Homo sapiens: one gene and its partners. The protein of the gene in region 6 purifies or fractionates together with the protein of the main gene of each other region. This does not show direct contact. Each region holds a gene or a part of one and is shown on either strand. Other genes may lie near its edges. The genes, in order: TMEM70, OCRL, NDRG1, RNF122, SLC25A46, SLC7A5 and TMEM59.

Evidence for each region.
Region 1: the proteins of SLC7A5 (region 6) and TMEM70 purify together in Homo sapiens (affinity purification with mass spectrometry; one large-scale study listed by BioGRID and IntAct). This does not show direct contact.
Region 2: the proteins of SLC7A5 (region 6) and OCRL purify together in Homo sapiens (co-immunoprecipitation; one large-scale study listed by IntAct). This does not show direct contact.
Region 3: the proteins of SLC7A5 (region 6) and NDRG1 purify together in Homo sapiens (affinity purification with mass spectrometry; one large-scale study listed by BioGRID and IntAct). This does not show direct contact.
Region 4: the proteins of SLC7A5 (region 6) and RNF122 purify together in Homo sapiens (affinity purification with mass spectrometry; one large-scale study listed by BioGRID and IntAct). This does not show direct contact.
Region 5: the proteins of SLC7A5 (region 6) and SLC25A46 purify together in Homo sapiens (affinity purification with mass spectrometry; one large-scale study listed by BioGRID and IntAct). This does not show direct contact.
Region 7: the proteins of SLC7A5 (region 6) and TMEM59 purify together in Homo sapiens (affinity purification with mass spectrometry; one large-scale study listed by BioGRID and IntAct). This does not show direct contact.

The regions. Positions count from the first base shown.
Region 1 is NC_000008.11:73,979,195-73,983,283, reverse strand, and holds the end of TMEM70 (transmembrane protein 70, mitochondrial), read right to left. Parts: intron 2,130-4,089; coding exon 1,663-2,129; 3' UTR 501-1,662; downstream 1-500. UniProt on the Homo sapiens protein: Scaffold protein that participates in the c-ring assembly of mitochondrial ATP synthase (F(1)F(0) ATP synthase or complex V) by facilitating the membrane insertion and oligomer formation of the subunit c/ATP5MC1 through its interaction.
Region 2 is NC_000023.11:129,585,259-129,588,758, forward strand, and holds part of OCRL (inositol polyphosphate 5-phosphatase OCRL), read left to right. Parts: intron 1-1,743; coding exon 1,744-1,860; intron 1,861-2,920; coding exon 2,921-3,005; intron 3,006-3,500. UniProt on the Homo sapiens protein: Catalyzes the hydrolysis of the 5-position phosphate of phosphatidylinositol 4,5-bisphosphate (PtdIns(4,5)P2) and phosphatidylinositol-3,4,5-bisphosphate (PtdIns(3,4,5)P3), with the greatest catalytic activity towards PtdIns(4,5)P2.
Region 3 is NC_000008.11:133,252,253-133,255,752, reverse strand, and holds part of NDRG1 (protein NDRG1), read left to right. Parts: intron 1-1,157; coding exon 1,158-1,214; intron 1,215-3,500. UniProt on the Homo sapiens protein: Stress-responsive protein involved in hormone responses, cell growth, and differentiation. Acts as a tumor suppressor in many cell types. Necessary but not sufficient for p53/TP53-mediated caspase activation and apoptosis.
Region 4 is NC_000008.11:33,550,129-33,553,628, reverse strand, and holds part of RNF122 (RING finger protein 122), read left to right. Parts: intron 1-2,239; coding exon 2,240-2,285; intron 2,286-2,543; coding exon 2,544-2,585; intron 2,586-3,500. UniProt on the Homo sapiens protein: May induce necrosis and apoptosis. May play a role in cell viability.
Region 5 is NC_000005.10:110,763,007-110,765,657, forward strand, and holds the end of SLC25A46 (mitochondrial outer membrane protein SLC25A46), read left to right. Parts: 3' UTR 1-2,151; downstream 2,152-2,651. UniProt on the Homo sapiens protein: Transmembrane protein of the mitochondrial outer membrane that controls mitochondrial organization.
Region 6 is NC_000016.10:87,863,008-87,866,507, reverse strand, and holds part of SLC7A5 (large neutral amino acids transporter small subunit 1), read left to right. Parts: intron 1-3,500. UniProt on the Homo sapiens protein: The heterodimer with SLC3A2 functions as a sodium-independent, high-affinity transporter that mediates uptake of large neutral amino acids such as phenylalanine, tyrosine, leucine, histidine, methionine, tryptophan, valine, isoleucine and alanine.
Region 7 is NC_000001.11:54,050,405-54,054,664, forward strand, and holds the start of TMEM59 (transmembrane protein 59 isoform 2 precursor), read right to left. Parts: upstream 2,801-4,260; 5' UTR 2,785-2,800; coding exon 2,596-2,784; intron 1-2,595. Other genes in the region: TCEANC2 (transcription elongation factor A N-terminal and central domain-containing protein 2), read left to right, coding at 4,019-4,120.

The DNA of each region.
Region 1 (4,089 bases), on a different chromosome or scaffold from region 6:
CAAAAACCCACCTTGAGCAGAAGATGGCACAGAGGAATGGCGGTGGGAATTCTCAGTCTGGTGAGCTGGACAATCCAAGCAGAGGGCAGGCTCTACGTCTCAGAAAGACAGCTTTTCTGTCTTATCTCCTATGAATAAGTTTCGAGCAGCCTGGGAGTTGAATGATCTCTTTGAACAGATGTTCCTGCTGCTTCCCCATCAACCTCCCTCATACACATGTACGCCATAAAGTTTAAATTTACTATCATGGTGGCCATAGACAATGTTAGGTAGCTCCATAAAGACAGACGGGGTGTTTCATTCTTAACTGTGATCTTAGTAACTAGCACAGTACTGGGCACTTAGTAAATATCTACTGATCTAAATAGTGTGGTTTGAGGCCTCTTGTTCCTGGCTAAAAATCCTTGGCAAGAGTCAATCTCCACTTTACAATAGAGGTAAAAATCTTACAATGGATATTCTTGACAAAGCTAGCATAGAGACAGCAATTTTACACAAGGTATTTTTCACCTGTTTAATAACAGTGGTTTTCCTACACCCATAGGGTGCCACCAAGGGAGGAGTGCACAGTTGCAGAAACAAATTAAGATACTGAAGACAACACTACTTACCATTTCCCGTATAGCTAACCACCAGTTCAACTGTACATGTATGTTCTTATGGGCAATCATGCCAGGGGTTAGGCAAAAACCTGTGTTCTGAACCAAAGAAGACTTAAAACTGCTCCCATAATTTGTGAATTTCTTGAAATTTTGCGGTTTTTTGAAAATTTTTTAACAACTGGTAATCAATTTATGAAAACAGTTGACTTAAGCATTTGCAATGGTGACTTCCATCTCAACTCCTGGCTCAATACTGATGGAAGTAATCTGCTTAACTATCTGAGGACTGCGCAAGTCAATGAGTCGCTTGTGGATTCTCATCTGGAAACGATCCCATGCCTTAGAACCTTCACCGTAAGTTTTTCTTGTAGTGATTCTCAAAGTCTTGGTAGGCATTCAAACTGGTCCTTTCACTGATTCTTTTCCTTTGCTCCTCAGATCAAGTCAGCACACACCTTATCCAGGGATTTTACGTTGCAACTCGTTAGAGTGATATGAATTCGGTGAATTGCCACCTCTGACTCCACGGGTGTTTTTCTGGTATGTTTAAAAGCCATGGCTGCTGCAAGGCTTCCTAGCCAGCTTCCTGACAGACTTGGTCCTCAGGCAACAGCAAAGAGCAGTGAGTCAGGAGCAGGAGCAGGTGGACCACAGCTCCGCACCACCTATGACTGTGTCTTCCTCAAAGAGAAAATGTCTTTTAATGTCGGAAAATATTTATACACTTAGAAAAATCCATACACAAAGAATAAAGCAACTCTCCCATTTGCTACTGACATCAGATCCCCAGTTTAGAGTCAACCACAGTAACACAGAACTCTTATACTAGCATGAACATATTTATTCACATACCTTTCTAAAACACGAATGGTAGATACTACATTTTGGTTTTCAAACATAGCTTGTTTTATTATAAACAAACATCATTCTCTGGAAATTAAAAGCTTTGATAATTTCAAATTATTTTTAACAATCAGTCACTAACGGAATGCAAAAGGCAATTTTATTATTATACATTAAAACGTAAATCACATTTGAGCACGAACACTAACAAATAGGCTCATTTGTCATCTTTATGCCGTTTCTCTTCACTGGTTTCTTCCATATACAAAATAAATTCTTCTTTGTCATAACCCATTAGATGGATATAGTCTTCACGGTTTGGAAAGAGCACTGGATTAACTAACAGTGATTTTGTTTTAGCATAAAATGTGGTAAATACATGTTTAGCATCTGGAATCTTCACATCATTCTGGTGAAACACTGTACTCGTTTCTGCAAGCATAGCATTGTAGGTAATGGCTTTATAAGTGTCTGTTGTGGCCTCATGGTACAATCGAATGACATAGCCTTTTGTAATAAAGTGAAGCAGCACTGGGGTGATCACCGTAAAGCTTCCCATGATGCCATAGAATATGATTTGAATAGGCAGAGGCACACTTTCAGAAATAGCATTATTTTGTGTAAAAATGTATGGCAGAAATGTAAGGCCAATCAGACTCGTAGAATAAGAGAAACATTTCACACCTAAATGGGAAAAAAAGAGAGAGGATCAATACTTTTAAATTTTATAAAAGAATCAATCTATCCCACTAATTCTTCCATTTTTCTTCTTACTGTATCAGCTCAAGACAACAAAATCAAACCATAAATACAGTGCTTATTATATTCTAAGCTCTGTTTTAAGGACTTTACATATTTTGACTTCAATGTCCCTGCTACTGACCATTAGAATGCACTGCCTCTCCAGGCAGGAAATCTGCTTTAGGGTTTAAGTGGCCCTACCTCAGTTCCACAATAAAGTAGTTAATATTACTTAAAGATCCTTACTAATATTGTACTACAAAAGTTGATTCAGATAGCAGATTATCAAACAAAACTCTCTATTAACAAGCACTCCAGTATATCTAACATAAAATATTCAAACATGGGAAATTCTATCAGGCTAAGTGCCCAGGATTAAAACAGCAAATCACCAGAGAAATAAAACCAGTGGTTAAAAAACATATCGGACGGCCAGGCGCATTGGCTCATGCCTGTAATCCCAGCACTTTGGGAGGCTGAGGCAGGTGGGTCATTTGAGGTTAGGAGTTCGAGACCAGCCTGGCCAACATGGTGAAACTCCCATCTCTACTAACAATACAAAAATTAGCTGGGCATGGTGGCAAGTGCTTGTAATCCCAGCTATTCAGGAGGCTGAGGCAGGAAAATCCTTGAACCCAGGAGGTAGAGGCTGCAGTGAGCCAAGACTGCACACTGCACTCCAGCTTGGGAGACAAAGCGAGACTCCATCTCAAAAAAAAAAAACAGAAACATATGGGAAAGGTATTCAATTTCTTTAGTAAGGAAAGACATTCAAGTTAAAACAATGAGATAAGCAGCCTGGCCAGCATGGCGAAATCCTGTCTCTACTAAAAATACAAAAATTAGCCAGGCTTGGTGGCATGCACCTATAATCCCAGCTACTGGGGGTGCTGAGGCAGGAGAATTGCTTGAACCTGGGAGGTGGAGGTTGCAGTGAGCCCAGATTGTGCCACTGCACTCCAGCCTGGGCAACAAGAGCAAAACTCCGTCTCAATAAATAAATAATAAAAAATACAAAAAAAACACTGAGATACCATTTTTACCTATTACCTTAGAAAGATTAAAAATAAATGACTTCTAGCAGAGTGCAGTGGCTCATGCCTGTAATCTCAGCACTTTGGAAGGTGTAGGCAGAAGGACTGCTTGAGACCAGTTTGAGACCAGCCTAGGCACCATAGGAAGACCTGTCTCTACAAAAAAAATTTTTTTTAATTAGCCAAGGCTGGTCTGATGGTAATGAGTTATCAGAACTTAACACTGGCATCACTAAAGTTGGTATACAATGTCCCCACTGCTAAATTTGACTAGCTTAAAAAAAAAAAAATCAGCCAGGTGTAGTGGCACATGTCTGTAGTCCTAGCTATTTGGGAGGCTGAGGTGGGAGGATCACTCGAGCCCACAAGTTTGAAGTTGCAGTGAACTATGATCACACCACTGCACTCCAGCCTAGATGACAGAGACCCTGTCTCTAAAAAATAAAAATTATTTTTAAAAAATGGCTTCTAAACTGTATACTTCAAAATGATTAAAGTGAAAAATTTTATGTTTATCTAACCACAATAAAAAATGACTTAAAATGTAAATTTACCTTACCTTTAATTTATAATTTTAATACGATCCTAATAAAAAATACCATCTGTTTGGAAAATAAAGTTGAGATCCTAAACAAGTTGATTATAAAGTTTATTTGGAAAAACAAAAGCAGCAAAAAATAAAAAAATAAAGCAATGAGGGGAAGTTACCCCTTCGAAATATTAAAACATAATAGAGGCCGGGCGTGGTGGCTCACGCCTGTAATCCCAATACTTTGGGAGGCCGAGGTGGGTGGGTTACTTGAAGTGAGGAGTTCAAGACCAGCCTGACCAACATGGTGAAACCCTGTCTCTACTAAAAATACAAAAAT
Region 2 (3,500 bases), on a different chromosome or scaffold from region 6:
TACTGACACTTTATTAACCTTTTTAAACCACCAAGGTTTGAGACAGCTGTGCTTCCTAGCTCTTCCCTGTTAAGAGCAGTCCATGTTCTGTCTTTTTATCTTAGGCAGTGCCTTGTGTTGCCTTAATGCCTTAGTACAGGAAAAGCTCCAGTTGGATGTCAGACTTTTTAAAAAGTACATGAATCAGTGCTGCATAATTTCTATATGGCAAGTTTGGAGGCATCTGCTAAAGAATCAGTACACGTGCTGCATTTGGTCCAGAGAGTTAGCAGAGTGCATGATGGACAGTGTTTTGTCTCAAATACCATGTGGATGCTTGGATTTGATATTTGTAACTGGAAAGAAGTAAATGGATGAGCCATTGATAGACATTCTGGCAACTATTAGGAACATGAATATCAAGTGATAGAATCCCAGGGAAAGAAAGGAAGCAAACTGAATGTGGGGAAAAAAAAGAAAGATTTTAAATGGTAACCAACTGTCACACTCCCTTCTCTTTCTTATTCCCTTGGAAAGGCACAGCAGCTTTTAAAGGTCATCAGTGCTTGTTAAAGAACACAATGTTAAGAAGAGACCTCAGCTCGGCTGTAGTGTATGTGGTCTCTGTCAAAGTAGTGACATGCTCCTTTTTTTTTCTTTTAAAGCTACGTGACTGGGGGTTGTGGATGGAATTCACAAGTTGCACAATGTTAGGCAAGAATTTCTTAGTTAAACATACAGAATATATATGACCTCAAGCTAGAGGCGGGGGAGGGAGGAGGATGCAAAAAAATTGGTCATGGTTCTCTCCACTGGGATTTTTATGAAGGGTGCCTTCAGGTGCCTTTACTATTTCAAACATTTTTTCATGTAATTTATATTTGATTACATGAACCTAAGATAACTGAGTTTATTTCCTAGCCATTTCCAATTCACATATAGTGATTGATTTGATTTATGTCACTTCTGGGTTTTTCTCTTACAAAATTCTTTCAGAAGAATATAACAGATAGTAGAAAGATAGATGAAAGGAGTAAAAGCCCCTAGAAATCTTGGCTGAGCTATTCCTAGAAACTGTAACTTCTGGACTCAGACCTTAAACTTTTCGTGGTATTTCTGCCTCTTGGTTAGCTGTATTCAGTTTACTATTTTTGGACCTTAAGGCTTACGAGTTTTAGCACCTTAAGATTAGAACTTCCATCAAGCCTGAAGTATTTACATATGTGGGTCTAATGTTGTGGAGAGTTGTCTTTAATTCCTGAAAACTAAAGAAGCTAATTTAAATCAACATTGAAAACAAACAACAGTATCTGTGGTAAGACCTGAAGGAAGAGTAAGTTAGAAATAAACAAAAACCTAAGTGTAGACCTTGATCTCTCAAACTACTGTATTGACAATTGTAATTTAATAGTCCCCAAGTCACCAGTGCTGTATGGACTCCACTGTGACTGTATCACCGGAGCACTGGTTCTCAGTGTCACCTTTGAAAGGATTTAAACACAAGGCATCCACGTAATAAACATCATAAACGCAAATGAAATGCAGAACAATTAAGTGAAGCATTTAGGAAAGGACATCCTTTAACTATGGGACTCGCTATCAAGTGCCTTCTGACCAGGAGTGTCCCCAGTGAGAAGAAATGGAAAATCTTAAGAGATGAAGATCACATTTTACCTGCATGACCAGAATTTGAAGGACTTTAAGTTATACACCAAAGTCTTTATTCTGAGACCCCTTTGATTCTCATACTTTTCCATCTATTAGGAGAAATCCCTTCTGCAAATGGTTCCTTTGGATGAAGGTGCCAGTGAGAGACCCCTTCAGGTTCCCAAGGAGATCTGGCTTCTAGTAGATCACCTATTCAAATACGCCTGTCACCAGGTAAGTGAGAGTAGACCTTCCCTACAACTTTGGAAGGTGTGTAACTACTATAGGAAATCACAACACCTCACGTCAGCATAGCGCTTTTAACTTTCCCAAGCTACCTGCACACAGTGGCACTGTCAGATCGACTGGGTGGGTGGAAGTGTCCTAGTCACAGATGTCACAGCTGAAGCATGTAAAGGTAAGTTATTTACTAAGACAAAGGCCTAAGTGTAGTTGTGGCAGAGCCAGGACCAAATTAAGAGCACCTGTCTCCTGGCTACCCTCTCATTTTCCCTGGACAGCTGCACACCTGAGTCTATAATGCCTACTTTGGCTATGAGTCATGTAGGCATTAGAGATTGTAAAATCCAAAGCAGATTTTAAACCCATTTTTTAACTTGGTCCTAATTTTTCTTTTAAATCCTAACTAAAATGCCACCCCACCTCATTCGCCCCCAAAAGAGATATTTCTTGGGACTAAATTGAAAGGTAATGTTCTCTTACCTACTGACGAATAATGTAACTTGAAAGCAAGGTTTAGTATGAGCATGCGATTTCCTCCTTCCCCAGCGTTCAGTAGTACTAGCATTTGAATGTGGTTATTCTGTTTGGACTCTGCCTTCTGCTGCTTGTCAAGAGGCTACAAGTAGGCCAGGCATGGTGGCTCATGCCTGTAATCCCAGCATTTTGGGAGGCAGAGACGGGCGCATTGCTTGAGCTCAGGAGTTTGAGACCAGCCTGGGCAACACGGTGAAACCCCATCTCTATAAAAAAAAATTTTAAAGGAGGCTAGAATTAGAACACCTGGTTTCCTGCTCTAGCCATCTAGTCCCCTGCCTTATTAGGTACAGGCTAAAACCTTTGAAAAGATCATTTTCCTATTTGAAATAACATTTCACATGGATTAGAGAAATGCTAAAGGAAAAATGTGTTATTTTCACACCTCCATTTGTAATTATTAACACACATACCACCCTTCCCTTTTGCTTCCTGCTGCTCTTCTGATCCTTGGGTAATCATCATAACCTCAGGAGTGATTATCTTGCCTGTCCCTTCATTCTGACTTCTTTGGTAGGAGGACCTGTTCCAGACCCCTGGAATGCAGGAAGAGCTCCAGCAGATCATTGATTGTCTGGATACCAGCATTCCTGAGACAATCCGTATCCTTTGCGACCAAAGCTTAAGAAGCTGGATGAGTACTTGATCAAACTCTTCTTCGCACCTATATTTGATTTTTGTGGTTCTATATTTATTTTCTTTGTAATATCTTTTATTATAAGATAACCACTGACTATCCACTTGTTTCTCATTTCCTTTCAGGAACTTTTGACCTCTTTCCATATCCAGCTCTTACTAAAAGGAAGCAAGGGGTAGATAACAATGACTTAAAAGCATGGGACATAGAAGCCACAGCACTGGTACTATTCTCCTTCAGGTGATCAGTCACTCCTGCCACCACACGTACTGTTGACAGGGCAGGGAGAAGGATGGGAAACATGGGCACCTGGTTTATAGGACTGCTCCAGTGTCAACTGTCACTCTGCAGGCTATATTCCCCTGACCCTGAAGCTGGGCCAAAGCTGCCAAGAGTCTTTGACCAATTCTGTAACAACTCACCTGCAGGGCACTTGAATCAATAAAATATCAAACCCCCA
Region 3 (3,500 bases), on a different chromosome or scaffold from region 6:
CCGATGGTTTGAAGGGGCCCTGCCTCTTGCCCCATCCCCTGCCCTGTACCAGCCACTGTGATTTTGCATTTGTTCTTTGAACATTCCTCCAGAATGCAGGAGCCCTTCCGTCCAGCCTGTATGACGTTCTGGAGTGGAACACACTCCCTGTTTTTTATTTGATTTTCCAGCAAAGGAAGTGACATTCCAGTCAACCCGCTGGGCTTCATGATAGCTGTCCTGAGTGAGACTCGAAGGTCTGGGGATGTCGACCACTGGCTAATGTGAAGCCTGAGGATTGTCTTTAATAGCTGTACTATTCCCTTCAGTACAGCTTTAATAGCTGTACTATTCCCTTCTTTTTCAACTCCAGCCTTTCGATTACCAGGCATTGGTATTAGATACTGTGATGTGTGCAGTTACTTCTTGCAGTCCTTCCCTTGACCTTGTGGCCTTGAAGTTCCTGGCACTCCCAGTTCCAGATTAGAAGTCTGAGACCCAGAGGTATGCAGACTGCCCAGTGCCACACAGCTAGGCTGTGGCAGGCAAGGGCCAGCCAAAGACCCTTAGGTCTAGAGCTTCTCTCCTACTCATTTTTGCCTAATGCTTAGGTCAGCACACATTTATGGAGCTTCTGCTGTATACTAGGACTTATAGAGCTCCTGCTGCAAACCTAGTCACTGGGGAGAGGTAGGAAAAGAAGATTGTCAGTGTCTTTGGTAATATCAGTATACTTAGAAAGGGGAAACTGGCTTGGAGATGAGAGAGGAGGGATAGTTGGGAGCCAAGCATATCTTGGGGTATAGACTGGGGAGCTCAGTGTGTTTTTAGAAGAGGTGAATGGATGGCCCTCTTTGCTGAGGACTTGGTGAATGTTTGGAGCAGGGTAAGCTAGCAGTAGCTGGGTCTTTATTCAGCACTTATTTGCTGTGCATCTTGTGCATGGGCCTCTGAAAATAAGGAACTGGATATAGTCCCAGGCCCTGCATTTGGGGGATCAGGTCCAGGAGGGAACTGGAGACAGGAACTGAGTTTCTATCAAGGGGGATGTCCTTGAGGCCTGCATGTAGGGGGGAGTCCAGCAATGCCACCCTGCACCCAGGGAAGTGGGGTTTTGCTGACCTTGTTAACTACTGTTAGCTCCTGGTTTCTCATCCACCCACTTTACTCCTTTCCAGATCTCAGGATGGACCCAAGCTCTGCCGGACATGGTGGTGTCCCACCTTTTTGGGAAGGTGAGTTGCGTGGTCTGGCAAATCTGTTGTTCCTGCTGAGCAAGGCATTGTGTGGTGCTCAGCACAGGGCCCCATGTGGGGGTGGAGAGAACAAGACACAATCAACTGGGGGCCACCGAGCTGGTGCTCATGAGATAATGTGACATTATTCATTCATAAGCAACAAGTCATTCATTCTCTCTCTTTTTTATGTGTCTTTTAAAAACAGCTGATTGAAGTACAATTAACTGCACATATTTAAAGTGTACAATTGACATGCATATACATTTGTAAAACCATCCCTGTAATCAGGAGAATAACGTCTCCATCACTCCAAGAGTTTCCTTGTGCCCCTTGATAGTCCTCCTCTCCCTCCTCCTCAGGCAACTTCTGATCAGCATTGGCCTCTATAGATTGCTTTGCAATTCCTAGAATTTTATATAAATGGCATTATATAGTAGGTACTCTTTTTTTTTTTTTTTTGGTCTGGCTTCTTTCCCTCAGCATAACCATTTTGAGATTTGTCCATGTTAATGAGTGGATCAATAGTTTATTCCTAGTCGGGGTGCAGTGCTCATTCCTATAATCCCAGCACTTTGGGAGGCCATGGCAGGAGGATTGCTTGAGCCCAGGAGTTCAAGACCAGCCTGGGCAACATAGTGACACCTTGTCTCTACAGAAAAATTAAAAATTGGCCAGGCATGGTGGTTCTGCATGCCTATAGTCCTAGCTACTTGGGAGGCTGAGGCAGGAGGATTGCTTGAGCCCAGGAGTTTGAGGCTACAGTGAGCAGTGAGCTGGGATAGCCCACTGTATTCCGCCTAGGTGACAGAGAGACCCTGTCTCTTAAAAAAAAGTTTATTCCTTTTTAGTGCTGAGAAGTATTCCATTTTATGTATGTGCAACAGTTTGTTTTTCCATTCACCTGTTGATAAGACCTTTGAGTTGTTCCCAGTTCTGGGCTGTTATAAATCTGGTCAGTAGCAAACATGTCCGTGGAGTTAGCTGTGTGCTGGGCTGGGCTCAGTCCTAAGAGCTTCACAAGTGTTAACTATAGGAATAGGATTCCACCCAGGTGCTCTGTGACCTGTGTGATAAATTCTGTTCTCATTCCCAGTTTATGGAAGAGGAAACAGACCAGAGAGGTTGAGTGACTTGCATAGGGTCTCAACCAGGGAGAGGTGGGGCCGGTATTAGAACCTATGAATCTGGCTTCATTCTGGTCACCACAGCAGGATGGCGGCTGCCTGTGCTGCTGCCTGGCTCTGAGATGAGCTGCTCTTCTGCAGAGTTACCCCACTAAAGGGGATTGAGCCAAGCCCCTCACAGCATGCTAGAAGTGAGCAGTCATCTTATCAGCCCAGCCTGCCTGGCCCCAGACACTGGTTTTGTGTCTCTAGCTGGGGCCAGCTACCCTCGGGAAGGGTATGCCATGGGCTTGGTTGCAAGCCCAGGGTCTGGAAAACCCCTTGGTTGCCTGAAATTGCAGTGACCTGCTTTGCTTACATACCACTGTCTGCTTCTGAGCTAACATGTGTGACCATCTGACACTCCCATGAGTCCTGGGGACACAGCCTCCACTCTGGAGCTGGCGAGTACACCAGGGGAACAGACGCCCCACTCTGGAGTTGACGAGTGTACCAGGGGAATAGAGGCCCCACTCTGGAGTTGACGAGTGTACGAGGGCAATAGAGGCCCCACTCTGGAGTTGGCGAGTGTACGAGGGGAATAGAGTCCCCACTCTGGAGTTGGCGAGTGTACGAGGGGAATAGAGCCTCCACTCTGGAGCTGGTGAGTGTACGAGGGAAACAGAGGCCCCACTCTGGAGCTGGCGAGTGTACGAGGGGAATAGAGGCCCCACTCTGGAGTTGGCAAGTGTACCAGGGGAACAGAGGCCCCACTCTGGAGTTGGCGAGTGTACGAGGGAAACAGAGGCCCCACTCCGGAGTTGGCGAGTGTACGAGGGAAACAGAGGCCCCACTCCGGAGTTGGCGAGTGTACCAGGGGAACAGAGACCCCACTCTGGAGTTGGCGAGTGTACCAGGGGAACAGAGGCTCCACTCTGGAGTTGGCGAGTACAACTGCTAGGTTTGCCTGTTGTGTTGGTTTCCTGTGGCTTCTGTAACAAATTACCACAAACAGGATGGCTTAGAACAGCGAAAGTGGGATGAGCAGGGTGGCTCACACCTATAATCCCAGCACTTTGGGAGGCTTAGGCGAGTGGATCACCTGAGGTCAGGAGTTCGAGACGAGCCTGGCCAACATGGTGAAACCCCGTCTCTACTGAAAATACAAAATTAACCGGAT
Region 4 (3,500 bases), on a different chromosome or scaffold from region 6:
ATCCATCTATCCACTCATTTGTTTATTTATTTTAATTATTTATTTAAAAAAAATTTTTTTGCCAGAGTCTCACTCAGTTGTTCAGCCTGGAGTGCAGTGGGGGCAATCCTAGCTCATTGTAACCTCTGAACTCTTGGGCTCAAGGGACCCTTCTGCCTCAGACCCCCCAAGTAGCCAGGACTACAGACATGCACCATCATACCTGGCTAATTTTCTTTTGTTTATTTATTTTTGAAGAGACAAGTTCTCACTGTGTCACCCAGGCTGGTCTCAAACTCCTGGCCTCAAGCAATCCACCTGAGTTGGCATTATTCTTTATTTCTGTTTTCAACCATTTAAGAATAAAAACCACTCTTAGCCTCTAGACCCTGCAAAAACAAGTAGTGAGCTGGATTTGGTCCTCAGACTAAAGTTTCCTGCTTCTCCTGGCTTGCTGGGTTTCTATGTTTCCTTCCAAATAACCCAGGACTGTGTTTAGAAGTGATCACCAGGAAAAGCTCCATAAGGTTCCCCCATAGCACACATAGAGGAGGCATTCTTTTTTTTTTTTTTTTTTTTGAGACAGGGTCTTGCTCTGTCACCCAGGCTGGAGTGCAGTGGTGCGATCTCTGCTAACTGCAACCTTCGTCTCCTGGGTTCAAGCGATGCTTATGCCTCAGCCTTCTGAGTAGCTGGGATTACAGGTGCATGCCACCATGCCGTGTGAATTGTCCTGTGAATTTTTGTACATTTTGTAGAGATGGGGTTCTGCCATGTTGCCCAGGCTGGTCTCAAACTCCTGAGCTCAAGCAATCTGCCCACCTCGGCCTCCCAAAATGCTGGGATTACAGGCATGAGCCATCCCACCCAACCCACATACAGGAGGCATTCTAAAGCTACCTGCAGAGTTCAGCATGTAAGATCCTCCATCCCTTCCTTGAAAATAATACGGCAAAAAATCCAGTGTATAATTATGGTCTCGGCCATTTGCACAGCAAGCCATTCAGAGTTGTAAACTTAATAAAAGGTAGGGTGTGTCCCAAGACCAGATCATATTCTCAGGACTATGATGTATTCCACCTGATTAGGGGAACAGACCACATTATATGGTAAAGAGCTTGGACTCTGTCATCACACCAACTTTGATTCAAATCTAGACTCTGCTACCAATTAGCTCTGTGATGTTTAGGCAAATAAATTCACTTCTTTGGGCTTCATTTTTCTTTTTCTTTTTCTTTTTTTATTTTTATGAGACAGAGTTTCGCTCTTGTTGCCCAGGCTGGAGTGCAATGGCGCAATCTCGGCTCACTGCAACCTCCGTCTCCTGGGTTCAATCGATTCTCCTGCCTCAGTCTCCCAAGTAGCTAGGATTACAGGCATGCACCACCACACCGGCACATTTTGTATTTTTAATGTGACGGAGTTTCACCATGTTGGCCAGGCTGGTCTTGAACTCAAGTGATCCACCTGCCTCGGCCTCCCAAAGTGCTGGGATTACAGGCATGAGCCACCGCACCCAGCCAGGCTTTATTTTTCTTATCTGTAAAAGCGAAGGTATCTCACTCTTGGAGTTTGGAATCATTAAGAACATATATGAATATGTTAAGTGTCCCAGCGACATATAGCAAGTACTTCATAACCATTATATTATGCTATTGCCATTAGTAACGGCATGCCATGTTTTGGCCATTGAGAGTCAGCCCGTTTGCAGGCCACCAGCTTAAAATGAAAAGAAGAAAACAAAGGAGGCATCGTCTGTGTTGTCCGGCACAGTGAAGGGAAGAGTGTGCTTTGGTTCCAGAATACTTATGTTCTCCGGGTGGAAAATTCCCCAGGGTCAACAGAGACTTATTCTGCTATCCTGGCTTAACAGAAATAACCCTTTTATGCATATCTGTCTAACTTCCGCACACTCAGTAAACACAGTGTTGATTTCTATGTAGTTTGGTGACTGAAGGAATTTGCCGACCAGAAAAAGGCAGGGTGAGTGAATGAGCTATTTGGGGATGCTGTGCTGGAGGGTCCCCCAATCTGTGTATGAGACCTGGTGGTGAATTTTGAGGCTGTCAAACCCGAGTAACAGTCTTAGTCCTTTATCAACCCTTGTTGGCTTGCATAGGTCCAAAGTATGCCCTGTGGTGTGTATGGGACAAGCACCCCTCCCTGCCCTCGGAAGAATGCCCAAGCAGCCAGCCAGCCTCTCCTGCTTTGAATTGTTCCATTTAACCTGCTTTCTCTAATTTTTTTCTCTTTCTCCCAGCAAACTGCGGAACCAGGCACAGAGTGAGCGATACGGATATAAGGAGGTAAAGTGCTGCGTGTTTCCCAGAAGCTTCCTTCTCTGCCTGACCTGATAGGAAGAGGCAAGGAGGGCAGGCTCAGGTTCTCCTGGGCAGGAATCCCCCTGGCCTCACCTCTGGGTCTCCCTGAGGCTAAACCCCTTCAGTGTCTGAAGTCCGGCTTGCCCCAGGCAGTCCAGGGGACTCCCTTCATTGGTTGATACTACCTGGCTGGCCCCAGTGGTTGGTTCTTCTTTGGACATCATGCCTCCTCTTTCTTTTCAGGTGGTGCTTAAAGGTGATGCCAAGAAGTTACAATTATATGGGGTAAGTGTGCCAGGAAAGTGTGCAGGAGGGCCCCAGCAGGTGAGGCAGACAGCACCTTGCTCCAGTTCTCTGCCTGGACGCTTTTCAGAAAACTGCTTAGTCCATGCCTTCATATCTCCTTTGGCCAAATAATGGAGACACATCTCAGCAAGTAATTAATATGTGGAATTGATTACACCTGGAACAGCCTCAGGCAGAAGACATGAAGGGATCACAGAAGGGTTTAGATAAGTAGTGCCCCACAGCCCCAGGAGTCCCACAATACATAATTTTTACCAGGAGGATGGTCGTACCCTTTCATGCCATAGACAGAATTCAGCTAACTTTCCCTATGTTCAGCCCCTACATCCTGGTTGTTATCATAGGAAATGAGGTCCTTTTACTTTTGTATATACCCCATCTTAACAGACTAGATCTGACTAGTGTGTTCATTCCTGTGGCTCTGCCATTTCTCTCCCACCCCACTCCCACCCATACACCAGTTCCTTGAGTCCCCTCAACTCTGACTTGAGGAATTAGTCATATCCTATTCCTTTCCTACCTATGCCTCTAAGGTCACCTAACCCATTTCCCAAGGCTCCTGTTCATGACCACAGACACTCCTACTCAGAGCATGTTTGTGGTTGTCTGGGAGCAGAGCGGATCACAGTTCCACTAAACATGAGACTGCCTAGACGTGGCCTCATTTTGTCTATTACACCTCTGCAAGTGCTGATGTTTCCCAAGCCTTTCTCTCAGAGAATAATTCAACTGAGATCAAGGGAGTTAATATGTAGGGATGTGGGAAGTCTGGATTTAAAGAATGTAACTGGGCCAGGTGCGGTGGCTCATGCCTGTAATCCCAGAACTTTGGGAGGCCGAGGTGGGTGGCTCACCTGAGGTCAGGAGTTCGAGACCAGCCTGACCAACATGGTG
Region 5 (2,651 bases), on a different chromosome or scaffold from region 6:
TACATTTGTACATTTCAACATATAATAAGCAAAAAAATTACTAATCAGTTTAATAAAAACATTTTGTCTATTCCTAAATGTAATTTGGTGGGTTAAGCACTTTGTGTAGTAAAATGATATGTGTCTGCTCTATCATTAGACATTTTAAAGTTTCATGTCTTCACGTGAATAATCACAGTTGTATCATGAACCATTTAGCGCTCTGAAGCACAGTGACTTTGCACTGATATTGTCCAACCAAGAATGCATACGAATAGAAATTCATTTTACTTGCTAAATGTCACAGAAATGGTTACTTTTTGCAAATAGTAGTGTTGGAACAAAAAAGTGATATCCAAAAAGTGTAAAAACAGTAATAAGTAGCAAATCTCTCGTGTGTGTGTGTGTGTAGTTACTGAAACACCTACATTTTCCATTTTTAAATTCCACCAAAAGGGGGAAAATAAAATTAAACACCACTGATCACATTTTATATTTTATGGTGACTATTTTAGATTAAGGTTTACTTTGTCCAACCAATAGCATTTAAATTGTTTTCAATTAGGATAGTTTCAGATAAGAGTAAACCAGAAAATTTCAAGTTTGAAAAATTTCTAGAAAAGAATCTGAATAGAATCAAGTATTTACTAGTGAAAATCTGTAGGATCCTTTGTTTAGCTAAAAATTAAATATTTCAGGATATTTTTTGGAAGTTAGCATGAAAATAGTTAGTTACATAAATTCATTTTATTGTAGAATAATTATAAGACTGATAGGCTGAACCATACACAAATAAGGTTGATCTTGTTTTCCTTTTTGGAGAAAGAGAATACAAATTAACATTAAAATTGAAATGTAGAAAGTAAAATATGAATAATTTTTTACAACCACTCCAAATTAGTTGAAACAAAATCTTGAACGGTCACGCACTTAAATTTAAGCTAGCCAAATATGTTGCACTGAATTTTGAAAAGAATGAGTGAGATAACTGTAAGATACGCTCGTTCCCTTTTAAAAATTGTTATTTTTCTTTAACATGGGTGCCAAATCAAATATCCATGGGCTATACTTCTTAAGATAATAACAGCTCAAAATAATATTTTTTAATTCAGTAGAACTAATAGCATTATGGAAAAGATTCTATTAAATGTTCCACAGGCCCACTGGTCCTCTTATATAAGCCAAATTTTGGCCATGGAGCTTGTGATACACTTGCCTTACATTGTAGGGTTTCTTAATTTGAGTCAAGTACACTGAAAGCAATTAAAAACTGGTAAATATTAATTTACTATGTAAAGTGAACTTACGAATTAACTTACTAAATACATATATGTAGACCTTCCCGAAATGCCATTCTCAATTTTATTTTATGGGCTCCAAAAAAAATTATCTGGGTTAATAAGGTTATCTATTAAAGCCCCCAGAATCTCAGCACTAGATGTCATAAATATGAAATAGTAAAAACAAGGTCACTTGAAAATGGGTATTTAATACCTTAGCTGGTGTTTTCAGAAGCATACAGAACTGGAAAGGTAAGAACTTGCTTACTATTGCAGATATACCTGACCACTCACAACTGTCTTTTTAGCAGCAGCTTTGTTAAAACTGCACAAAGCATTCACTTTATTGATTGAGTACAAATGCTTTAGTGTTTCTACCTAAGTATTAGTACATCTGTTCAGGAAATGGAAAAAAAAAATGCTGCTTAAATTTGTTTTATCAGCTGAGGTTGTGGAGGATTTTTGTCCACTGATCTTTTGCAACAGAAAAGCATACTTTGTCAGCTTCTAATAAGATAGCCAGGTTTGAATTATTTGCAAAATTTATATAAGCAAATAAGATCTCTTGGTAACAATTGACATTGCACTAGAATTTGAATGATACTGTTGTTGGCATTTCTGTTTCTCTTTCAAGTAGTTGTAAATAATCTCTTTTTCTCATATAAACGGAATGCATAATGTCTTACTCTTGAGTCATTTAGTATCATTGATATGGTACCAAGTTGTATAGCAGAGTAACAAAATCATGATTTGACAATGAAATTTACATATTGCCTCACCTAGAGATGTTTTGTCTGTATGACTTTTTTTTTTTTAAGTTTGTCTTACTGTTACTTTAAATGTTTTGGGTAAATTGTGTAATATGAAAAGTTCAATAAAATGTCGAAATAAAGCCACTGTTTTTCTCCTACTGATGTGAGAGAACTATTCAGGCTGGTGGTTAAAGATGAAGTATATTTTTTTAGGTAGAAAGGAAGATCAACAAAATATGTGAAGTTAAACTTTTTTGCACACTATTTTTTAAAATCTCTATAGCCTCCTCACCACATCCCTATGACATTTTTGGAGTTGTGCTGTTTGATTAAGAATAAAATAGATACAGAGAGGAGGTGATTTGTCCTGCATTTCACAACTAGGAGAGTAACAACAGAAAAATGACAAATAGGCAGCTCCAGACTCCCATCCCTCCATGGAAAGAGAAGAAAACAACCAGAAACTGTCAGAACCAACTTTGTCAGACTCTGGAAAACAGTCAAAAGTTTACAGCAACTATGTGAATGTTAAATCAAGAAAAAGGCAACTTATTGTTAGGAAAGCTTTGTGGCTTTGACTTACCTTGGCTCCTGTCTTCTCTGTGGTTCAGTGGCATGGCAGTCTTAAAAATGGCAGCTT
Region 6 (3,500 bases):
GGCAACAAGGCGAAACTCCATCTCAAAAAAAAAGCAAAAATCAGCTGGGCGTCATGGCGCACACCTGTAGTCCCAGCTACTCGGAGGCTGAGGCAGGAGAACTGCTTGAACCAAGCATGGTGCCACTGAGCTCCTGCCTGGGTGACACATTTCTCCTCCTTTACCACCCCCGACCCCCAGAGTTTCTGCGGCTGACAGTGTATGCTTCCGGAGCTGCTTCTGTTACAAATATATCGCTGGCCTATTTATTTAAAAGATCATAATGTACAACTTGTTCTCCACCTTTTTTTTAAAGCCTAAAATGGTTTTGCCATGTTCCCAGGCAGTACGCAGAGGCTGCCCTCTTTAGCTGCTAAGAAGACTTCCCTGTGTCGGCAGGAACAAGTGTGCTCACCGCACCCCCGCCCCCCCATAGAACCCTGTGGAGGGCATTTGGGGTTTCCCAGCTTTGTGCAAATGGGAAAAGGGTATGTGGTTTTTTGCTTTTTGTTTTTGATTTTGTTTTGAGACAGAGTCTGTGTCTGTTGCCCAGGCTCGTTGCTCACTGCAACCTCTGCTTCCTGGGTTTAAACGATTCTCCTGCCTCAACCTCCGGAGCTTAGATTACAGGCATGTGCCTCAGCCTCCCAATTTGCTGGGATTACAGGCATGAGCCATCGCACCCGGCGGGGTGTGGATTCTAATGTAATAGCTAATGTGCCTTCCAAAGAGGCTGTACCAAGTCACGCGTTCCTGGATTTATTTTGTGGTAATAGGGCTTTAAAAAGTATTTTTTAAATTTATTTTTATTTTATTTTATCTTTGAGATGGAGTTTTGCTCTTACCCAGGCTGGAGTACAATGGCACGATCTTGGCTCACTACAACCTCCGCATCCCGGGTTCAAGCGACTCTCCTGCCTCAGCCTCCCGAGTAGCTGGGACTACAGGTGCCCACCATGCCCAGCTAATTTTTTGTATTTTTAGCAGAGACGGGGCTTCACCATGTTGGCCAGGCTTGTCTTGAACTCCTGACCTCAGGTGATCCACCCGCCTCTGCCTCCCAAAGTGCTGGGATTACAGGCTTGAGCCACCACACCTGGCCTAAAATAGCTTTCCAAGCAGTCCTTTTGGTCCCAGTAGGTAAAGCTTCAAGGCAGGCCCTAGAGTGCCAACCCTCTCTGACCCAGAGGTGAGGGTTAATGTTAATAGGGTCCCTTTCAGCGAAAGTTAGGGCCACACTTCTCATGTCCCTAAGCCATTTGTACTTGTTTTTTTTCTCTGACCCACCTGTGTGTGTGGTGAGTATGTGTGTATGTGTTGCTTTTTTTTTTGGAAAGTGATTTTCAGTAACAGAAAGGGATGTACTCTCTGCAAGAGTGAATCTATTCTTGCCCCTGTGTGTAAGGCAAGAAAGAGAAGCTGTGTTCTCTGAACAGGCAGACCCTGCTGAGAGAGGGAGGTGTGTTGGGGTTCAATCATTCTGGTGGGAAAGATATTAGAGATAGTTATAGAAATAGACACAAATCTTGGAAGGCCGAGAAGTTGGCATAACTTCGGTAATTAGCTCTGGCTGAAGGCGGCCTGATCCCTTTACCTTTAATTAAACAAATAAAAATAGTGATAAAAGAAAGGCAGCGTAGTTTACCTAGCTAGCTTGTTTACTCGCATAATCTTAAGACCGTGGGTGTTTAAGTGCTTTTTACTTGGGAAGTCCACAATGTCTGTTACATTCTAATGGTGTTGACTCAAGCTTTTGTTAGTTAATCATACTGAATAAATGCACGTCTGACTAGCTGATCAGGGCCAAGTAGCAACTGTTTACAGGACTCAGCAGGGAGCCTATAAGCGGCTGGGACCCTCAGCTGGACTGGCAGAGCAGAATATCTGTGTGTCTGTACTTTATTCATCTGTCACCGGGTCAGGGGTCTGCAAGGAGTGCTGTCGCAGAGGTGGGCTTTGCTGAGGCTGGTAGAACTCCAAGCTGATTCTCAGGTCATTCTGACTTCAGCTCGGAGAAGGGCAGTGGATGTCCCGGGAAGGGAGACCCTGCCCTTATAGGGGGGCTTCTGACAGGTGCAGGGGGCAGCCTGGAGCCCGGACCAGTGGGCAGGATGGGCGCTCCAGGGTGTGAAGGAGAGGCCGGGCGTTTGATCTGTGGACATTGCTCCTGGAGCAGTGAAAAGCCATAGAAAGTGATTTATTTTACTTATTTATTATTTATTTATTTATTTATTTTGAGGTGGAGTTTCGCTCTTTTTGTCCAGGCTGGAGTGCAATGGCACGATCTCGGCTCACTGCAACCTCTGCCTCCTGGGTTCAAGCGACTGTCCTGCCTCAGCCTCCCGAGTAGCTGGGATTACAGGCATGCACCACCATGCCTGGCTGATTTTGTATTTTTTAGTAGAGACAGGGTTTCTCCACGTTGGCCAGGCTGGTCTCGAACTCCTGACCTCAGGTGATCCGCCCACCTCGGCCTCCCAAAGTGCTGGGATTACAGGCGTGAGTCAGCCTACTCGGCTGATATATATATATATATATATATTTTTAAATGATCACACATAAGGTTGGGTTCTGGAATTTTCTGCTTAGGAAGGGAAAGGGCACCTTTTACCCCCTTATTCCTTGAGCCTGATCCTACAGAAGGTACAGTGGCTTTCGGGTCTGGATCCTCAGCCCTCGGGCCTCTGAGGCTGCCTTGGGAGAGGGTATAGATTTGAGAACAAGGTTCTCAGTTTTGCTGGCTGTCTTTTCAGTCGCCCAGGCACGTCCCACAGAAGGTTTCTTTTTGTGAAATAATCGTGTGAAATGGGTTGGCCTCGGTGCTTAGAACCATCCCACTGACGGTGAGTGAAAAAAATCCCTTGCTTGTCAGTCTGGGTAGGAGATGAGGTCCTTTCACGCGTGTCTTCGTGTTGGTGCGCTTTTCACTGGTCATAAAGGTGAGAGGAACCAGCTCCATGTGTCTCTTTCTGGATGGCCATATGGAACTTGGCATGACAGTAGGGTTGTGTGGTTATTTATTGCTTAACGAAGACTTGGCAGCGTGTACTGGAAATTCAAGCGATGCTGGGTTTTATCAGAAGGCGCAAAGGCTGGAGCTGAGATTCTGGCTGGGCCTGGATTTGGTTTGGGCAGTTTATCTGACCTCCCTGGGCCCCAGCTGGCTCTGCATAGCGAGTAGGGTAGCATCCACTCAAAGTCCCGGTCCACTGTGGCCCGGCACTGATCCAGGCGAGTTCTCAGTAAGTGGGAACTCACAGGTTCAGAAGATGCTGTGGGCCTCAGGGGCTTCCACCTCCAGGGAGGTGCTCTCAGAAGAAGGGCCCGATGGGCTCACTGCATCGTGGAGAAGATACCCTGGCTCAGTCTCAGTCACTTCTCCAAGCGCATAGGTGTTCGGGAAGTGGCCTGCAGACAGCTCCTCCATGCCTTGAAAGCAGAAGTAGCCCCCTCCTGTTTCCCTGTCCCAGTTGGGTGAAGCATGGGGGGCTGCTGAGACAGTCCCAGGCGTGCCGTCACGC
Region 7 (4,260 bases), on a different chromosome or scaffold from region 6:
GAGCCACCGCGCCCAGCCTAAAACGAGATTTCTATCTCGTTTTTCAAACGCTATGTGAGTTTGAAAATTCATCTAATTTCTTACAATACACAGTGCTTTTTCCTGGAGCACAAAGCACAGAGGAGAGCCAATAGAAATCAGTGACATAATTAAATATGTTTCTTTTTTTTTTTTTTGATGCAGAGTTTCCCTCTTGTCGCCCAGGCTGGAGTGCGGTGGCGCGGGCTCACTGCAACCTCTGTCTCCCGGGTTCAGGCGCTTCTCCTGCCTCAGCCTCCTGAGTAGCTGGGATTACAGGCGCCCGCCACCACGACTGGCTAAATTTTTTTGTATTTTTAGTAGAGACAGGGTTTCACCATGTTGGCCAGGCTGGTCTTGAACTCCTGACCTGAGGTGATCCACCCGCCTCAGCTTCCCAAAGTGCTGGGATTACAGGAGTGAGCCACCGCGCCCGGCATTTTTTTATTTTTATTTTTTTGAGACACGGTCTCATTCTCAGACTGGCGTGCACTGGCGACATTTCGGCTCACTGCGACCTGCGCCTCCCAGGCTCAAGCAAGCCTCCCACCGAGTAGCTGGGACTACAGGTGCTCGTCTCCATGCCTGGCTAGTTTTTTTGTTTTTCTTTTTTCCAGAGACGGGGTCTTGCCATGTTGTCCAGGCTGGTCTCAATCTCCTGAGCTGAGGTGATCCACCCACCTCGGCCTCCCAAAGTGCTGGGATTACAAGCGTGAGCCATCGCACCCGGCCGAATATGTTTAATGCAAGTTTATTAATAGGAGGCAGCATAGTGTAGCCAGTTTTAAGCTGAATTCCTGCTCCACTATTTCTTGGGTATGTGACCTTAGGCAAGTCACTTAACCTTTCAGAGCCTCAATTTCCTTAATTTTAAAACCCTACTTTACAGGGTTGTTGTGAGAATTAGGGATAATGGTATGATAAATCTCCCATCACTCTGGCTAACAGTGGAGTCTATATAAATTTCAAGTCCAGGACCTATAGGGAGCCAGATGATTTGGAGTTCTTTGTGAGAAAAGCTTTAATAAATAAGTAAAAATAGTTTATAGATATAACACCAATTGTTAGAAAATAGTGGACATTATTAAAGTACCTACAACTTCCAGGAAGGTATCCTTTCAAATTATTTGATTATTTTCCCAACATTCTGGTTTATACCACAAAATTGCCGAGAAAATCCCAAAAAAGGAAACAAACCCTAGAACAATAGAAAGTAAGTCTCAACCCAATTCCAGGCCAAATCAATATTAATGAGCTTCTTCATACAATCCTCTTAATGATGAGAAGTTTACAAGAGGTGGAGAAAAATAACGTGGTTAGAAGCAGTATTCATTGATTTAAGTCTGAAGTTAAAACTTCTCACTTCTTTCTCGATTGTTACATAAATCTCTGGAAAAATTTAGTACAGTCCCTTCTCCCACACTTTTTTTTGAAAATTGATAATCTCCATGCAGTTTAAAATCCAGCCGTAACAAAATCTGAGAAGTGCCGGCACTTAGAACTTTTCATTTCAAAGACCTGAAAATACTCGCCAATATGGAACATCCTAAGCTTCACTGGAACTGTCTCCGTAGCCACTCCAGTTTTAGAGAGCAAGGAGGTCCAGCCACAATGGTTAAGCAAATAGCATAGAGGAGATGAAGGAAAAACGAAGAGGAAACCACCAGCAACATCAACAAAAGCTCTCATAAAACAACGTGGGGGAGGGCATATACTCAAATCATACATGGGAAAGGTGTGGTGGGAATCATCAAGCAATTTAGAATGTTGAGTAAACAGAGTTCTTAGGCTGAAAAACCAACGTGAAGAGGGTTAGGTATGTAATTAAAAGAAAGGGGGGAAGCATAGAGAGGAGGGCCATTCCTCTCTGTAAGCTGCGAACCCCCTCCTGTCCACAGTCTCATTTCTTCACCCACTCCACGAATTCCCCGTTTTCTGCACTGAGTGGTCAGTTTCTGGTAGGCAGACACCTAATTGCCTCTTCTCTAACCCAGTCCCTCTTGGCAGCGTCTTGGACACAGTAACTCAACATAGGCAGACAGCATTCCTGAGCGTCTCGCTACTCCCTGAGCTGCCTTCGTGACGCTTTTTATACCACAGTGGAATCGTCTACTTGTCTGACTCCCCGAAGACTGCGCTCCTGGCCCCGAGAGGCGCTTAGTAAACAAGGGTTATCAATCAATCATTTGTGGACTCGCGTATCTGCGCCTCCCTTTCTACAATCCCCCCTTACGCTCCCTTAGGTGAGGACCCCGCATTAATCATCCATATCCTCCCCTATCCTCCTCCGAGTGCTCGACTCCCCTGCAGCCCGGCAAGCTCCCAGAGGAAAGGGATCGCGTCTTTCTCATCTTTGTGTCCCCCAGCCTATCACAGGGTAGTGCAGGACAAACTTCCGGTAATGACAGCAGAAATGGGGTGCAGGCAGGATTAGGGAGGAAAACAGGAGCTACACAGATGGGAGACAGCGATTGAAGGGCCGATTTAACAGCCAGGTTGCCAGAGCCGACATACGTGTGGGGAGCCGAGAAATGGGCTGCAAGGGAAGGGTCGCAGCCCGCTCCGGACGGGCCCTACCTTAGGGTAGGTGTGCAAGGGGTAGGTCAACTGACAGGCCCGGTGGCAAGACGCCGTATCACCCAAGACCGAGTCAAATGCTTCAGCCGAAGCGGTCCCCGAACCTCCGGCCAAGGCCATGGTCAGCAGCAGCAGCGGCGGGAGCCCCAGTTGGGTCCTCACCCAGAGGCTCCCCTTCGGCGCCGCCATCTTGTTCCCCTCTGTCACAGCAGCTCAGCTTGTTGCTGTTTTCTCGGAAGGGTTTCCTCCTCCTCCTGGGGCCAGCCCCCTTCTCCGCCCCACCGACCGTTGCTTCCGCCTCCGCTGTCACTTCAGCTCCGCCCTCACCCGCCAGAAACTGCCGCCTCCTGCCTCACCTCTGGGACTACGAACTTCTTCTCCTAGGCTGGCGTGAGGAGGGGAATTCAACCATCGCAAGCGTTAGCGCGAAGCGGGGCCTCCTGACTTCTTCCCTTCGCGGGGCAGGCTGGGGCATGTAGTTCTCCGTAGGCGGGAGGCGCACGGTGCTGTCGGGAAAGTTGGTCTCGGAAAACTACAGCCGCCCTCAGCGCGCCTTCCGCCCGCATTTCTTCGCAGTGCATTCTGGGGAATGTGGTTCGCTGTGGCCCAGAGGCGCGAGGGCCGGCGGAGTTTCTTCAGAGGAACTACCGCCCTGGGAGGAAGCGTCTGTTTAGTTTCAACACAGACGACTGGGCTTGGGAGCCTACGAGGTTGCAGTCTGGAGGGCGCCAACAGCAGCTACCAGGGCTGCTTTTCCTGGTGGGTCTCACGTCAGACCGTTGTTGGGTGCCCCTACCCGGGCTCCTGAGTGCTGGGAACGAGGAGGATGGGGTTTCTCCTTGTTCGGGGATCCAGAGATTACAGCCGTGGGTAGGGTCCTCTGACCACCGAGCAGTTTGTTCTAGGGGATGCTGCGTATTGTGAGACCCTCTGCTGAGTTCTGGAGGTGGTTGTCGGTTGCTGATTACCAGGGCAACCCTTGGGATTATGGCTGTGGTGAGGTGGTTGTTAAGAGGGCGTCACTGAGCCTAATGTAATCCTAACCCTTTCACAGCCCAATCTTATTTGGAAGAGGGCTTAGGTGCACGCTCTAGCGGGGATTCCAATATTGGGCCAATTCCCCCAATGTTGGAATCCTCGCTAGAGCGTGCACTTCTGGAAGCTAGGAACCTCCTAACTCAGGACGTAGACTGATGATTGATTACAGTTTCAATTCTTCGGAAGATCTTTCTTTTAAAGAGAAAATCTTACTTCCTGTCAATTCCACTCGAGGCCCCATAATTCATGAATTCTTCCAGAGAACTCAATTGTGTTACTTTGGGGAAAAAATATCATGGCAGTCTTTAGTGGGGTTTTAGAATCTGCCCTCTTTCTTGACCAGAACACGCTGCAAGCACGTCAAGGTAGTCGGAGTCCCCTAACAATGGATAAATTCGTCATTCGAACGCCTAGAATCCAGAATAGCCCTCAGAAGAAAGATTCTGGAGGAAAGGTTTACAAGCAGGCCACGATTGAATCTCTGAAGGTGAGAGGGGATCTGGGGCTAGAGGAAATGTGCAAAGGACTGATAGCAAGGTGGTGCTAGAGGTTCTGTTGTGGAAAGACCTATGAATTATTTCTTGTTATGCCTCCTCCTCAAAGTGTACCTGACCACTCCTCCTTTGT